Homo sapiens: one gene and its partners. The protein of the gene in region 1 interacts with the protein of each later gene in a pairwise test. Each region holds a gene or a part of one and is shown in the gene's direction. Other genes may lie near its edges.

Region 1 (3,525 bases):
CAGGAAGAAAATGAGCAGGTCATCAATTATAGACTGGATAAAGAAAATGTGGTACAAATACACCATGGAATACTATACAGTCGTGAGAAAGAATGAGATCATGTCCTTTGCAGCAACATGGATGGAGCTGGAGGCTGTTATCCTAAGCAAACTGAAACAGGAAGAGAAAACCAAATGCTGCATGTTCTCACTTATAAGTTGTAGGTAAATATTGAGTACACATAGACACAAAGGGGGAAACAGCAGACACTGGGACCTACTTGAGGGTGGAGGGTAGAAGGAGGGAGAAGATCGAAAAACTACCTATTGGATACTAGGCTTGTTACTTGGGTGATGAAATAATCTGTACACAAAACCCCTATGACACATAATTTACTTATATGACAAACCTGTACACATACCCCTTAACCAAAAATAAAAGTTAAAAAAATAAAAGTTTAAAAAGAATTCAAAAGAATATTTCAGAAATAAAAACACTGGCATCAACTGATTGAAGAGACACAAAATATCATTGGCAAAATCTCTTTGCTTGATACAAAAATTTGTTCTCTCTTTCTTCTAAAGAGCTGGGCATGTGGCAAGAGTCCCTGGATCACTGTGTTGAGAAGGGTTGTTCTGTTATCTGGAACACCTCTTATAAACTGTTATCCGAGGGAGAAATAAACTTCTGTTTTATTAAGAAAAAGAAAGAAAGAAGAAAGGAAGAAAGAGAAAGAGAGAGAGAGAAAGGAAGGAAGGAAGGGAGGAAGGGAAGGAGGGAGGGAGGGAAAAGAAAAGAAAAAAAAGAAAAGAAAAGAAAAGAAAGGGGAAAGGAAGGGAAGGAAGAAAGAAAATAGTACCCCCCAAAAAAGGGAAAAAAAAGGCAGTTAATTTAATAAAACTTGTTTAAGTCTCAGTACAAAGTATGCAGAAGCATTATCATTGAACTTTTTGGTCTCTATACTGAACTCTTTTCCCATACAGAGTACTTCAAAACTTTCTCATCATGGCTTTCATTTATAGCTGCATTATTCTTCTTCTGGTCAAAGTAAATGACATGTTGGTTCTCTTCTTCATCCATTTACAGACAGTCATTTTTGGGTCTTACCTGATTGCACATGGGTTCTTCAGCGTCTATGCAATGTGTGTTGAAACAATTTTCATCTGCTTCTGTGAGTATTCAGTATGTGTGTTTTCCCCCTTCGGTGGATAACTGAAAGGTGAGATGGTGAAGGCCCATGTCCTTAGCTGGCTTGGGGATCTGCTGTTACCTGGCTGCAACCACAAAACGTGTTTATCTGGAAAGAGATATTGCTTAGTAGATGTTATTTAAACCATAATACCTGAGAAATAAGTCAGATGCAGAAAGACAAATACTTCATGATCTCACTTACATGTGGAATCTAAAAATGTCAAACTCATAGAAACAGAGTAGAGGGGTGATGACCAGAGATTGAGGGGTCAGTAAAATAGAGAGATGTTGGTCAAAGGGTACAAACTTTCAGTTATGCAGGATGAATAAATTATGGCACTCACATGTACAGCATGGTGACTATAGTTAATAATACTGTATTGTTAACTTGAAATTTGCTAAGCTCGTTAGTATTCTCACCACACACACACAAAGATAACTATGGGAGGTTATGGACATGTTCATTAGCTTGACTGTGGCAATCATTTTACTATATATGCATATATCAAAACATTACACACCTTAAATATTTACAGTTGTTATTTATTAATTATATCTCAATAAAGTTGGATAAAAAAATTATACCTCAACAAGGCTTAGAGAAAAATACAAAATTTAAAAAGAAATCTTAACAGCTAAGAGAATGGAGTTTGCAAAGCACAGAAGAGTCAACTACTGAAATGAAGCACAGGCTTCATGGCATACTGTTAGCATGAAATTATTTTGTTCATTTCTTGATTTTTTAAGTGAATAATAATGATTGGCTTCTGCCATGCTTTGTTAACAGAACTGAAGACGTAACAGGACTCTGGGAACTAGATATGTGGAATTCTTTGAGGAGAGGATTTATAAATTCTGATAAAGCCAAGATGACAAGGTGGTTTCAAGGACATATAGGGCCAATTCGCACTGTGCATCACAATGACAAATGGATAGGATTCGGAGAGGAGTGCCTCTAGGAAATAGTTGGATTAATTTTGATACATAGAGTTAAAATACTTCTTTAGAGCTTTCATCACTGACTTATACATGATGCTCCTATAGTTGCATATGCAACTCCCATACACAAAATAGGGTTTTCTTTTTTTGGCTAGGCACTGTGGCTCATACCTGTAATCTTAGTGCTTTCAGAGGCCAAGATGGGGAGAACTGCTTGAAGCCCAGCTTGAGACCAGCCTGGGCAACATAGTGAGACCCTATCTCTAGAAAATAAATAAATAAATAAATAAATAAATTAGCCAGGCACGGTAGCACACACCTGTAGTCCTAGCTACCCAGGAGGCTGAGGTGGGAGGATCACCTGGGCCCAGGAGTTCAAGGCTGCAGTGAGCTATGATAGTGCCACTGTATTCCAGCCTGAGTAACAGAGCAAGATCCTGGCTCTGAGAAAAAAAAAAAGATTTTTTTAATATTAGTACCTCACTTGAAAAGTCCTGGAGAACCTAGTACCTAGCAGAAGCTTAATCTGGCTTTCACCTTCCATGCCATTTCTTTGGCAAACCAACAGAAAGTAGAGTCAGTAAGTAAAAGAGCAGAACTTGTTAGCTGCACAACTACACATCCTGAGAGATTATTTCTCTAGCACATTGCCCTTAAGAGAAACAGAGAACATTTACTCTCTGACAGGCCATTACTGAACAATCCACTTGTATAAAATTTACAGTTTGCATTTTAGAATAACCCACAGCACCAACTTCACACTGGGATCAAGAGAGACGATAACTATAGGGAGATATATTCAAAGAAAACCTCCTGGAAAAAAGTCTGGCCTTGTTTTTTGTTTGTTTGTTTCTGAGCCTGTTAAAATCAATTCTCAATAACCGGACAAAGAATTCAAGAGAACTTTATGTACTAGTTAGCTCTTCCTCTGGTTGTAAATGGAAATGAAATGTTTAATGTTTTCCTAGTGCTTCAGTGGTCTAAGGAAAGCCATCTATCTACAAAATATCACATGAACAAACAGTTCAGGTATGGGATGGAAGAAGGAGCACGAGTAAGGTCAAGCACTAAAACATGGTGGACGCAGGGCTCTAGAATGCTCAAAGATCTCTCCTCTCATCTCCAACATTAACCATGGGAGCAATAACTGGAAATCACTATGTGACCTTCCCCATTCTTGTAGCTGAAAATACTTATGAAAATTTGTCTCAGGAAATGTCTAGAACCTACTAGCTTCCAGTCTTTGGAAGTTTTGGCTAATATGTGGATTTTAAGTTTGGCAGTTGATTTTGAATTTTGACAGTAAGAAATGTTTTCCACCATCTTTATTAATTGCCAACTCCTTGAAAGCCAGGTACATCAGCTTGATTCAGTGTATTGCATGTTGACATGAATCATTTCCTTTCAGAGACACT
Region 2 (2,365 bases), on another chromosome or scaffold:
ATAATTGAGAGTTGACTAACTTTGGAAGTCAGAATTCCCAGGAATTAGAGTAACTGCTCTGGAAAGTTAAAGTGTGAAGTTTTTTAGATAGTTTCATAAAAACAATTCTGGTTTCTTTTTGCTTGTGCTGACTTTCTTGGATTTTAATCTACCTCATCTTGTCTTTTTAGAGTTACTTCAACTTGTCACTTTAACATTGTGCTTGACTTTGGTTGTTTTCTAAGATGGAATTTTTCCTGTTCATTGACAGCTTGTTCTCTTGCCTTTTCATTCTGATCCTCATTTCATCTAACATCATCTCATATTGCTCCTCTGTCAAGAGAAATGTTTTAAAATAGTTTAAAGTCTTGTTTTATGGGAAGAAAGTGATCCTCCAATGCTATTTGTTTCTGAGGTCAGTAAGAGAAGGAGTTAAAACAAGGCAGTGGGGAAGGGAATGAATCCTGCACTGGAGGCAAAAGCTGACAAGGAAAGAGCCATTAATTAAGACAATTTCAAAGTCAACTGATTGTGATCATTAATGTCACAATAGATCAAAACCTAATTATCACAGCCTAGGTAAGAGCCATCAGTATTAATCGGAAAATCTAATAGGAAACTATTATCAAGAAATTAGGCCAAATTGAATGCAGTGAACTTTTTATCTTGGCATTCTCTATTTTTTTGTGATGTCCCCTGGCATTGGCAGGTGTGACCCTAACAGTCGATTCAAGGCCAAGTGGTCAGTTTGTCAGCCTTTTTTAAGGGATTTCTTTTTATTTTTAGGAATTCCAAACAGAGTTAACCTAAACTGTCATTGCCAAAAGATCAGTCTTAAACTTTCTTAGCACCTGTACCTGTTTAATGTGATCAGCTATCAGTGAGGAAAAAAAAAAAAATCTATTTAGGTCTTGGAATGGTTCCTGTACCTAGAGTATCCATATTGAACCTTTTTTTTTTTTTTTTTTTTTTTTTTTTGAGATGGAAACTTGCTCTTTTGCCCAGGCTGGAGTGCAGTGGCGTGATCTTGGCTCACTGCAACCTCCGCCTCCCGGGTTCAAGCAGTTCTCTGCCTCAGCCTCCTGAGCAGCTGGGATTATAGGCGCCTGCCACCATGCCCGGCTAATTTTTGTATTTTTAGTAGAGACAGGGTTCACCATCTTGGCCGTGCTGGTCTTGAACTCCTGACCTTGTGATCCGCCTGCCTCGGCCACTCAAAGTGCTGGGATTGCAGGCGTGAGCCAGCACCCGGCCACAGTATCTTTATTACAGCTCACTGCAGCCTCAATCTCCTGGGCTCAAATGATCCTCCTGCCTCAGCCTCCCAAGCAGCTGGGACTACAGGCGCACACCACGGTGTCTGGCTAATTTTATTATTTAAAAAATGTTTTGTAGAGACAGTCTCCCTGTGTTGCCCAGGCTGGTCTCCAACTCGTGAGCTCAAGTGATCCACGTGCCTCAGCCTCCCAAAGTGCTGGGATTACAAGCATAAGCCACCGCACCCGGCCCCTAGTGAACATTTTACTGTATGTGTTGATAAATCATCTTTTGAGTTTCTGTTGTATGTGGGGACTTCCTACACTGGCTGCTGTGAAGAGGTATGGAAGAAAGGAGAGGCTTTCTGCCTAGAAATTCTTTGAGAACACCTGAAAAGACAGTTTAATCATGTCACAACACTCTTAAGGCTCAAGTCAGTGTTCTGGTTTCCGGTAGCTTTAGGATTGGATTCTAAACGAGGGCTGGTGGTGAGTTTGGTGTTTGTCTCGTGTCACCCTCACCCCTCACCTCCTCAGTTTAGGATAAGAGACATAATGATTTCTACCAGAATCCAAAGTAAATCCAAAGGGGGAGAAAAGACATAACTGTTTTTTCTTCTACCTTTTTTTTGTTAAAGAGTTACATCTCTCACAGGAGGAAAGAATTCAAGAGTCTATATGATTAGTTACAGAGAATATTTTCATCCCCTCTCCCTGAATAGAAAAGCAGGGGTCACCATTTGTATCCTTACCCTTGAGGTGTTTTTGAAGATGCTGTAACTCTTGAAGTTGAGCTGAGGCAGAAAGGTTGGAAAAATGCAGCCCTCTGGGTATTGTGGGGAGGGATGTGATGTAGTAAGAGGGTGTTTTGTGGTGCTAGGATTCCCACGCCACCAACTTGCAGCTTTATAAGAGCGCTACCAAGAACCACCACTGGGGAAAAGGTTCTTATTCATTGTTTCTGTTGGAATGTGATCTTGCTTTCTGGATTTTAGGAATTCAGGTTACTCAGTATAAAACTCTGAGAAATCAGTGTGACTTAGTCCTTCACCTCCTAAGATAAAGTGAATATTTCTTTACAAAATAATTCATGTCCTTAATGTTAAAGATGTAATTTTATTTTCAAAACA
Region 3 (3,525 bases), on another chromosome or scaffold:
CAAAATGCTTCTTCATCTCGTCTCATAAATTAAAATTTCTTCTTCAAGACTCAACTCAATGATGTCTTCTCTTTCCAAAACAAAATGGGTCTACCCCAGGGTGCCAGTCAGTACAGCTCTGATGCTCTCTCTACATTCAATGGTATTTGTGTGTATAAAGGCCACAGCGGTGTGTTAAGACACCTCGTTCTGCAGTCACTCTGCCTGGGTTTCAATCTGGGCAAGTCCCTTAACAGCTCTAAACTTCAAAATCCTCACCAGTAAAAGGAAGATAACAACGATACCCATTTCAGGCAATTATTGAGAGGGTTAAAAGTGTCATGTGGGTAGAGTGCTTAGCAAAATTTCCAGCACCTAGTGAGTTCCTAATAAATAGAAATGTATTTATTTATTTTGAGACAGAGTCTTCCTCTGTCACCCAGGCTAAAGAGCAATGGCGCGACCTTGGCTCACTGCAACCTCTGTCTCCTGGGTTCAAGCGATTCTCCTGTCTCAGCCTCCCAAGCAACTGGGATTACAGGCACGCGCCACTGTGCCTGGCTAATTTTTTGTATTTTTAGTAAGGATGGGGTTTTACCATGTTGGCCAGCCTGGTCTCGAACTCCTAACTTCAAGTGATTTACCCACCTTGGCCTCCCAGAGTGTCAGGATTACAGGTGTGAGCCACCATGCCCGGTCCACAAATATTCTATTTCACTCAGTATTGCCATCCATTCTTACACATCTGTCTGCTCTTCTGGATAGTGAAATTGTAAAGACAGAGATGGTGTTTGGTTTATTCTTATATCTTGAACAATGAATGTGGCTCATAGTAGGCATTCAGTCAATGTTCATGGAATAAATTAAAGTCAGTCCTAGCCTGTGGCTGCATTCAATAAAGGGTAACAACAATCACAGTGACACTGACAAATACTGGCTACCTTTCCCCTCTAAGCATCATCTGTTGGGAATCTGATTGTGTCCTCTTCCCAATAGGATTATAAACCATTGAAAACACCAAGTACATCTTGACCATATTTTATTTTTTAAATTTATTTATTTATTTATTTATTTATTTATTTATTTTTAGACAGAGTCTCACTCTGTTGCCCAGGCTGGAGGGCAGTGGCACGATCTCAGCTCACTGCAACCTCTGCCTTCGGGGTTCAAGCAATTCTCCTGCCTCAGCCTCCCAAGTAGCTGGGATTACAGGTGCCTGCCACCATGCCCGGCTAATTTTTTGTATTTTTAATAGAGATGGGGTTTCGCCATGTTGGCCAGGCTGGTCTCAAACTCCTGACCTCAGGTGATCCACCTGCCTCAGCCTCCCAAAGTGTTGAGATTACAGATGTGAGCCACCTCGCGTGGCCTTAGTGGTGATTTTGGTGGACCCATCACCCGAGCAGTGTACACTGTACCCAGTGTGTAGTCTTTTATCCCTCGCTCCCTCCCACTCTTTCCCCTGAGTCCCCAAAGTCCACTGTATCATTCTTATGCCTTTGTTTCCTCATAGCTTAGCTCCCATTGAGCATATTTTATATTTTTTCCTTTCTTTTCTTCTCTTTTTTGAGACAGGGTCTCTGTTGCCCAGGCTGGAGTGCAGTGGTGGGATCACTGCTCACTGCCGCCTCAACCTCCTCGGCTCAGGTGATTCTCCCACCTCGGCCTCCCAAGTAGCTGGGACTACCAGTGCACACCACTAACTACCCCTGGCTAATTTTTAATTTTTTTTTTTGTAGAGATAGCATTTCACCGTGTTGCCCAGGCTGGTCTCCAACTCCTGGGCTCAAGAGATCCACCCACCTCAGCCTCCAGATTTTATATATTTCAAAGTGCCTAGTACTGTGCTGGGCACATACCTGTTCATTTATTACCTGGTAGGTCGCACTGGGTGTTCAGAGAACAAAAAAGAGCCCTCTCATGGGTCAACTACAGTCACTCAGCGGAGGGAGGCTTGTGTCTCTCAATCAGGCTGATACTGACAGACTTTCTCTTCAATCAGGCTGATACTGACAGACTTTCTCTTTCCCCGTAGGAGTGCCCAGTCCCAGGGTGACACTGGACAAGAAAGAGGCCATCCAAGGTGGGATCGTGAGGGTCAACTGTTCTGTCCCAGAGGAAAAGGCCCCAATACACTTCACAATTGAAAAACTTGAACTAAATGAAAAAATGGTCAAGCTGAAAAGAGAGAAGAATTCTCGAGACCAGAATTTTGTGATACTGGAATTCCCCGTTGAGGAACAGGACCGCGTTTTATCCTTCCGATGTCAAGCTAGGATCATTTCTGGGATCCATATGCAGACCTCAGAATCTACCAAGAGTGAACTGGTCACCGTGACGGGTCAGCATCCTGCTCCCTTCCTCATCGTTCTTTGTGGTTTCTGGTTTGGTATGGGGAGAAAGAACCCAGAACTGGGAAGGGGCTGCTGTTCTCAGGACTTAAGACCTGTTCTTAATCATTTTAAGCCAGTATTTTTCAAGCTTTTTTGACTGTTATACAGTTAAATTGCATACAATTTTTCAGACAAGAGTTTCACCAACAACACTTTACTCTTAATATATATGATGCTTTTTGTTTGTTTGGCTTGGTTTTTGGGGTTTTTTTTTTGAGACAGAGTCTCGCTCTGTCGCCCAAGCTGGAGTGCAGTGGTGCAATCTTGGCTCAGTGCAGCCTCTGCCTCCCGGGTTCAAGCAATTCTTATGCCTCAGCCTCTGGAGTAGCTGGGATTACAGGCATGCAGCACCACACCTGACTAATTTTTGTATCTTTAGTAGAGATGGGGTTTCGTCATGTTGGCCAGGCTGGTCTCAAACTCCTGATGTCAGGCGATCCACCCGCCTTGGCCTCCCATAGTGCTGGGATTACAGGCGTGAGCCACCACCCCAACCTTGTGTGTGTTTTTGAGACAGGGTCTTGCTCTGTTGCCTGAGCTGGAGTGCAGTGGCATGATTTCAGCTCACTGCAACCTCCGCCTCCCAGGTTCAAGCGATTCTCCTGCCTCAGCCTCCTGGGTAGCTGGGATTACAGGGGCATGCCACCATGCCTGGCTAAATTTGTATTTTTAGTATAGACAGGGTTTTACCATGTTGGCCAGGCTGGTCTCAAACTCCTAACCTCAGATGATCTACTCACCTCGGCCTCCTAAAGTGCTAGGATTACAGGCGTGAGCCACCGTGCCCAGCCTATTTCAGTCTTTAAACACTGGCCATGACACACTACACTGATGCATTATGTGATCTGTAGTTTGGAAGCCACTGCTTTAAGCCATCGAGGGTCAGACACCAGGAAGTTGGGTTTGGAGGGGATCGGGAGGAAAGAGGGGCCAGGTCCTCAGCCTTGGCCTCCTGTTGTTCAACGTAGATTTGCGTTGGACAAACAGCAAACAAATGAGGTGGCCTGGGAAATGCTCCCAGGAGAGAAGGAGGCAACAGCAGAGGGAAGCTGGGGAGTGTCCAGGACATACAGGGCTCTAGGACAGGTAGTCAGCCACTCCCAGGACCCGGTCTCATTTGCCAAGCCGGGAGAAGTCAGGGGAAGGCACACCC
Region 4 (3,525 bases), on another chromosome or scaffold:
AAATTACTAAAATAAAGGTGCGTGTGTGTGTATGCACATATATCTAAAGGGAGAGAGGGAGAAGGAAACTTACTAAATAAAATTTTTGCCACATGGGATTTAGTCTAATCAGTCTTGGTTTTGGAGTTGCTATCATCAGTAGTTCCATTTTGTGATTCTTTCTTTCTGCCTTCATGTGCCTTTGAAAACTGAAACTATGCCCAAATTAAAACAAGTTTTTCTGTCTTTTCACATGTTCACTTATTTCTTGAATGTGTTTTTAAACACAGACAAACTTCTTTTACATCATGTAGAATCTGAAGGTCGAGAAATTTGCAGTCATTTTGCTGGAGAGAGATGCTTGGCGGAGTCCCAGGCCACATTCCTAGGCCAAACTCTCGAAGGTATTCCTCTTATGCAACATTGGGAAAATACATCCAGCACCGACATGTTGGCTGATAATGTGTCTGAAGGCACAGACGATATGCTTATCATATGAAACATAAAGCCAGCAGATATTGCAGACATTCTGTTGAATGATAGAATCTGGATCATTTACATTTACTTAAATGTAAAATACTATGATTAAGTACAAAAAAATCAATTTAGGAGAGAATAGAGAGTTGCGGGCACGGTTTTAGGGGATGACTTATCAGCAGATTGTAGAAAGGAAGCTTGAATGTTTTAAATTAACTGCAAGTTCAGTATAAGCCAGTGGTGTGACAAGAGGCTGTTATCATAGCTACTGAAATTTTGGGCTGCACTGCTAGAAATATAATACTGAAATGGAGAAGCTAATAATTCTTCACTTTTTAAATAGACTGTATCTAGAATATTATCATCAGTTCAAGGAAATGAAATAAGTTGTTTTAGGTACATCATCGATAAATTAGTGTACATTCAAATCACTGTGACCAGGATGCATAGGGAATTTGAAAGCATTGCATGTGAGCAATGGTTGAGGGGACTTGGAATGCATGACTTAGGGACAAGAAAACTTAGGCTGGAATGGCAAGTGGTTTTTGAATGTTGGGTTGAGAAGAATTCTAAAACTGTGAAGGATTAGTAAAAATAACATTCAGATTGCTAATGCCTACTGTGGCTGGGAGATTAGAGTGTCAACATGTGTGATGTATTTTTGACATCCTTATTTTGAGGATGGGCTTCAAAGATTTGACGAACTGTCATAAGTGTAATTTGTGTTGCTTCAGACAGCAGTTCTAGAACCAATGATGTAAATTTAGATACTCTACATGGTAGTTAGAAAACTTTCCATTAATTTAATTTAGCAAATATTGAATGCTCACTGCATACAGAGCACTTTATTAGAGGAATATATAATAAAGAAAAAAGAGGTCTGGTGTGGTGGCTCATGCCTGTAATCCCAGCACTCTGGGAGGCTGAGGTGGGAGGATCACTTGAGCCCAGGAGATCATTACGAGTCTGGACAACATAGCAAGACCCCATCTTTACAAAAGACAAAAAAAATTATCCAAGCCTGGTGACAGGCACTTGTAGTCCCAGCTACTTGGGAGGCTGAGGCAGTAGGATCGTTTGAGCCCAGGAGGTTGGGGCTGCAGTGAGCCGTGATTGTCCCACTGCTCTTCAGCCTGGGTGACAGAGTGAGACCCCGTTGGAGGGAAGGAAGGGAAGGAAGGAAGAAAGGTAGGAAGGCTGAAATGAAACCCTTTTAGAAATGACACTAAAATGGGAGGTTGGAGTAAGGTATTTTCTGAAGTGCCTTTGTACTTGTTTTTTTCTAATGCATTGGCCATAAGTCTGCTCCTTATTTATAGTCCATAAACAATCCTAATGAGAACAGTTATATATTTCTGCCTTTGAATCATCTACTTGAAGTGTTTAGCATCATGAATTGAGTATCAGAAATCCCTCCCATTTCTTTGCAAAGCGCTGTATTTTACTTTTCCTTATTTGTATACAGATTCTCAAAATTGGCTATTTTTCCTTTGGGTTAGACAGAACAGAATGTCTGGAAAAAAAAGTTCTTATCAAATTCAGGTGCCCAAATTGCTTAAGAAATTAACTTTTGAGGTTATATTTTTTTAGGGTTCAGTAGCTAAACTAAGAAAACTTCTCACCGTTCACCTTCACTTTTGGAAACCACAAAATCTTCAGATATTACAGTTTTCCAAAGAGTTTCTCTTTTTAAATATAAACTAAAAGGAATTGACTCCTCCCCCAACTCCCTCAGGCCTCAGCATGGATAGAGTTACTTTTTTTCTTTAATAATTTATTTATAACTTATTTTGCTCTTCTGTAGAACAGCTGGAGATTAAGCAACATGGCCATGACATAAAATGCAAGTTAGACCATAAGATGAGCAGCCCACTCCAAGTATGAATGAGTACTTATTCTTTGTGATCTCTCATACTGCTTTTAGGTATTAATAGTGTCAGTCAGCAAAGCAAACAGTTTAATATTTACATCTCCTTTAGGATATCATATAGTTTATAGTTTGTATGTGTTCTTGCGTGTATGTTTTCTTCTGTTTCAAATTCTTTTTTCTTAAAGTAAGAATGTTATATGTAGCAAATGGTTCTTTCATTAATTCATTTGTTAATTCACCGTGCATTAATTGAGTGCCCAGTGAGTGTCAGGCACTGGGCTACTTGGATTTCTTTTCCCTGTATTGATCCATATATCTTCAGGTGCTCCTTGATATGGCTCTCCATTGACTCTCTCATATAAGGCTTTCATTACCTATTCACATACTCCCTCCCAAAGAGGACTGGTCCAAAAGTAAAATCTTGAGCAAGTTCTCTGAGTTATTTCAGAACTTCTTGCCCCCAAACTGTATTTTTAATTATTGACTGGTAGCATTTTGGAATAACTTACCTCTCTTTTTTAAAGATTGAAGTTCTTTATCCTCTCTGATTTTCAGGTGTCAGTTTGTGTACAAATTGAGACAATAAAAATGTTTGTTAGACATTTTCTTAAAGCATTTTGCTATGTGAGAATCTTTCATGAAGAACTCTTTTTAACAATGACTCTATAGCAGAAGCCACAGTAGAGGGAGAACTACTGAATCAAAGATGGTGTTTGAGTCTATGATTTTATGATGGATTTTTTTTTTTTTTACATACAAGGATATGCATGGGTCTTTTAGTATTCAGGAATCTGTTCTTCACTTGACAGTATTTATAAATTGTGTGTTTCCCCCTAAAAAAACTTAAATTGTGAGAATGCTTCCATTTACTAGAAGTTGGTTAATGATTATGCCAAATAAGGAAAATAAGACAGAAAAATCAGTTTAGTGAATACTATTTTGCCTTTAAATTTAGTAATTTAGTAACAGTATCTCTTTGGGGTTTACTAGAAACCACTTTTTAATCCAATAGGTCTCTTTCATTGTGAAGTCAGGAGGTGATTTTGCTTAAATGTGTAGTATAGGAATCTATATGTGGTGTTCAAGGATCATGTAAATATGCTGATATAATCGGAGCACAGTTTGGCATCATTAACTCAGAAATATTTAAACTCTTGCTATACAACATGGAAGCAAACTTGTGCATAGTTTGTGTGTGT
Region 5 (4,060 bases), on another chromosome or scaffold:
AGCACCTAGAAGAAAGAAGATACTCAATGCATTCATTCATGACTGAATGAATGAAGAGTCCCTACCCTGTCCCTTCCTCTCCATACTGCGTCCATCCAATAGCTATCATTAAACTACTAAAGAGGACTTTTCGGAGGGTAGGGAGCCTCGGCTGATCAGAAATTGAGCCACTGTCGCCCAGATTATTTAGGGTTTCCTAAATAATCTGCCTCACTGAATCACTGAATTCCCTACTAACAGGTACATACCCCACAGATGGACATCGCACAGGGCAAGGACTTTGTTCAGCTCTCAGCTGTGTCCTCAGCACCTAGAACAGTAATGAATACCCTAGCTTAACTTGGAGGTCAAGGAGCTATCAGTTTGCGAGGGTGGGGTAGGAATTGACAGTGAGACCTGAGGCCTGTGGGAGGGGACCCAAAGAGGGAGGGGATGCAATAGGGAGGGGGCCAGGGGTGACAAGGATTGAGGAAGGGAGAGAGGGGGGAAAAAAAGCAAGGGATGCCTTAGAACCACATTTCACAGCCAAGGGAACAGAGGCCCAGAAAGGGAAAGTAACCTGCTTAGGGTCACACAGCACCTTGCTCAGTGGAGAGCCAGGTTTTCCTTCCTGTGCACTCCTCCAAGCCCAGCCAGACCACCTGAAGTTCCCCAGGCATCTCTGCCTCTATTACTCCACGACTTGAACTTTCCGGGTGCCGGGCAGGTACCGGGTCTGGTCTGCTCCCTCTCCCTCTGGCCATCGCTGAGGTTGAGGTTTTTTGAATGTACAAGTATGGAGAAGGGCACTGCCTTCAGAAGCCTGAACGTCTCCCCTGAGAGGGAGGGGGTGCACAGGACTCAATTGTTTCAGCTTGAAAATGGGGGAGAGCGGGGAGAAGGGGAGATGGCTCTGCTTGGGGCAGAGCCCCTGCGGGGAAAGGGGCGCCTGAAAGGACGTGCGATTCGGAGTGGGCTAGCTTATGCAGAGAGCCTGGGGGTGGGAGGAAGCTCGCACTCTGAAGGACACGCTGATCCCCGTGGGGACTCCCGGCGCCCCGCAGCCCGGGCCGCCGAGGGAGGCAGTAGGACCCAGGGGCCGGGAGGCGCCGGCAGAGGGAGGGGCCGGGGGCCGGGGAGGTTTTGAGGGAGGTCTTTGGCTTTTTTTGGCGGAGCTGGGGCGCCCTCCGGAAGCGTTTCCAACTTTCCAGAAGTTTCTCGGGACGGGCAGGAGGGGGTGGGGACTGCCATATATAGATCCCGGGAGCAGGGGAGCGGGCTAAGAGTAGAATCGTGTCGCGGCTCGAGAGCGAGAGTCACGTCCCGGCGCTAGCCCAGCCCGACCCAGGTGAGGGGCGGGAGACGCCTGCGTGCGTGCGGCCCGGGGGAGCGCCGAGCAATCTGGGGGTGCGCGAGGGAGTAAGAGGGGCGAGGGGACCCTGCGAAGCGTTGGGTGCCGAGCCAGAGCCTACAAATTGGAGTCCTCGGCACTTTGGGGGCCGCTGGAGGGTTTGGAATCGAGAGCCCAGGGCTAGCCAGTGATGGTGCCAGCTGAGGGCTAGGGCGGAGATCGGAGCCGGGTTGGGAGTCCGTGCACTCGGAGGACTGGGAAAAAGTGCAGGGACCCCTAAAAGGTGGTGGTGGCAGATACGAGACTAGGTGCTGTGTAAAGGGGGCTGGGGGCAGAGAGCAGAGCCTCTGCGGAAAGAAACAGAGGAGGAAGGAGATGGGTCTGGTGCCTCTTCCCGCAAGGGTAGGGAGGATAGGCCGGCCTCGCAGTTCCAGGTCACTTCCGTTCTGGGGTTGAGGCTCAGGGGCAGCGGTGATTGGTGGCCCAGCCTCCTCACAGGCTTGCTGAGGGAATTTGAGCTTCCGGTGGTGGGAAAGGAGGTGAAATCGTCTCGACTCCTGGGGTCCGTGTGCTCTGGTAGAAGTGGGCGACAGTGGCTCAATTTCTGATCAGCAGCTTGCAGCCTAGATGATGGCAGCCAAAGGAAAGACTTGGCCAGCGAGGCTCCCTACCACTCCGAAAAAAGAGAGTGGGGGTCAGCAGGGTCTGCTCTGCTCTGGGGATTAAGGGGCTGACTAGAAGGATTTGAGTCTTTCCTTCTGTCCACTGCCACAGGGTTCTTGGAGTAACTGCAGGGTTTAAACTGCAGGGTCTAACTTCCAGAGGCTGGGGTTCCCTGCCCCCCAGCTTAGAGACATTCCTGAGGTGGCTGAAGAGCAGGAAGGAGAATGAATGCACTTCCAGACTGGCCCAGAGTCTCAGCCCCTCCTCTTCCTTGTTTCCCGCTGGTCCCTCTGGGCTGTACGGCCCGGATGGAGGCCTGAGGAAAATGAGGGGGCTTTGGTTCTCCGGAATTCCGGCCGGGGCCACACCCTCCTGTCTTCAGATGGTTCATGTACCCATCCCCCCTTCCCGTCCTCTCCTTTGTCTCCTCTGTCACCGGGACTCCCAGCAGAGATTTTTTTTTTGTACTGGCTGTGTAACAGGACACCGCATGCAGCCCTCAGGAGGGGCTCTGTGCTTCTGTGAGGAAGGACCCCTGTGCTGGGAAGGCAGACCCCTGTTTATCCCGAGGGACCTGGGGTGACCCCCTGCCCTGGCCTTGTTTCTCCCATTTTACAGTGAGGTGGTCGATCTCCAAGGTCCCTGTAGATTGGGGACTGGTTGTGCCCTCTGCGCCAGGGGCCTCCTCACCATCTCTCCTTTGCCGGCTCCCGCCCTCTTCACTCTTCTGTTTTCTTTCAGAATGAAAAAGGCAGGCATTGACCTCCCTCTGAGGCAGTTTCCAGGTACTTTAGACCTCTCAAGTGTTTGGGACCCTCTGGTGGGGTCCCATCATCTCCTCCCCTTCCCTTCCAGACCCTGCTCAGTCCAGCTAGCTGTGGGCACAGCCCTGGCTAGGTGATCTTGTATTTTCTTTGTGGGACTGTAACTCAGCTAACCTTGGCCTGAGGGCTGGCATTTCTCTGTGGCAAGATGGGCTGGGCTGTGGGAGGCTGGCCTGCTTGCAGTAACTTGCCTTCCCCCATTCCTGCTGCTGGGTTCAGTGGGGCTGCCCTTCTCCCCAGTAGCGCATTTCCCTTCAGAGATTCATGTGCGGATGGGAAGGGAACTAAGGCCAAGAAGGCTCCTGGAGTCCCCTGGCAAATATGTGGCACCCCCTGGGACCTGAGTCAGGCCTGCTTCCCAGGCTGGAAGCCCCCCTCTGCCGGCCGGTGGAGATAGTTCAGCCTCCTGCCTGCCACGTCACCACCAGGAGCAGGCGCTAAGCTGCTGCGGGCCTAGCGGGCTGCCTGAGGAATCCCAAACCAGTTATTTGGAGCTTGCTTGAGAAGCCCCTCCCAGTCCTTTGAGGTTCTGGCTGGTGGGGGTGGGGGCTGTCAAGATGGTACCTGCCACGTGGCATGGCTGGGAGTGGGCTCTTCAGCTGCCTCCTCAGGGAAGGAAGGCTGTTGGCCTCTGCTGTGGTCTGAGCTCCAGCATCACTGGTCTGGATCAGAGGTGGCTTTTGAGTAGGGTGGCCATATGCCTATTGTCCTGGCATAATAATTAGTAGTGCCCATTTTACTCTTATAAGTGTCCTTGTTTGTGCAATAAATTATATGGTTGCTCTGCCTTTGAGGCTCCAGTTCTGGCAGGGAAGGAGCCAGAGCTGGGAGGGAGGTGTCTTGGGGTTTATTCTAGGCCCCAAGATATCCCCTTCATTTTAGGGTGAGACTCAGATCTCCCCGCTCCTTCCAGACATTTTTAGATCTCTGGGCCTTCCCTCCTCTCCCCACCTCCCTCCCCTTGGACCCTTTGCTTATCTTATACTGCACCTTCAAGGCTCCGAGGAGGGAGGCAGTCCCGGGAGATGGGGAGCCTGTCCAGGTTTTTGGGATGGCAGCAGTAGAATCTTCCCAGAAATACAGTGGTCCCCAGGCAGCCAGAGTCCTGAGGGTCTTCCACCAGGATTTCAAATGTTCGGTCTTCTTCAAGGATGACTACAAGTTGGGATCTACCAGAGCAGTGGGATCGCAGCCTCCACCAGGATTCCTTCTATCCTTCCCTTTGCCCTGTCATCTCTCCTGT

Evidence for each region.
Region 2: the proteins of SLC44A5 (region 1) and CBX5 interact in binary tests that used the Homo sapiens proteins (3 or more experiments, as listed by UniProt).
Region 3: the proteins of SLC44A5 (region 1) and PECAM1 interact in binary tests that used the Homo sapiens proteins (3 or more experiments, as listed by UniProt).
Region 4: the proteins of SLC44A5 (region 1) and BDNF interact in binary tests that used the Homo sapiens proteins (3 or more experiments, as listed by UniProt).
Region 5: the proteins of SLC44A5 (region 1) and SERPINH1 interact in a two-hybrid assay, tested with the Homo sapiens proteins (one large-scale study listed by IntAct).

What each region holds. Positions count from the first base shown.
Region 1 is NC_000001.11:75,209,094-75,212,618, reverse strand, and holds part of SLC44A5 (choline transporter-like protein 5), read left to right. Parts: exon of another isoform or gene 1-685; intron 686-1,066; coding exon 1,067-1,151; intron 1,152-3,525.
Region 2 is NC_000012.12:54,232,771-54,235,135, reverse strand, and holds part of CBX5 (chromobox protein homolog 5), read left to right. Parts: 3' UTR 1-2,365. UniProt on the Homo sapiens protein: Component of heterochromatin that recognizes and binds histone H3 tails methylated at 'Lys-9' (H3K9me), leading to epigenetic repression. In contrast, it is excluded from chromatin when 'Tyr-41' of histone H3 is phosphorylated (H3Y41ph).
Region 3 is NC_000017.11:64,373,846-64,377,370, reverse strand, and holds part of PECAM1 (platelet endothelial cell adhesion molecule precursor), read left to right. Parts: intron 1-2,014; coding exon 2,015-2,320; intron 2,321-3,525. UniProt on the Homo sapiens protein: Cell adhesion molecule which is required for leukocyte transendothelial migration (TEM) under most inflammatory conditions.
Region 4 is NC_000011.10:27,690,451-27,693,975, reverse strand, and holds part of BDNF (neurotrophic factor BDNF precursor form isoform a preproprotein), read left to right. Parts: intron 1-2,835; exon of another isoform or gene 2,836-2,870; intron 2,871-3,525. UniProt on the Homo sapiens protein: Important signaling molecule that activates signaling cascades downstream of NTRK2. During development, promotes the survival and differentiation of selected neuronal populations of the peripheral and central nervous systems.
Region 5 is NC_000011.10:75,560,993-75,565,052, forward strand, and holds the start of SERPINH1 (serpin H1 isoform 1 precursor), read left to right. Parts: upstream 1-1,260; 5' UTR 1,261-1,327; exon of another isoform or gene 1,328-1,386; intron 1,387-1,480; exon of another isoform or gene 1,481-2,024; intron 2,025-2,734; exon of another isoform or gene 2,735-2,778; intron 2,779-4,060.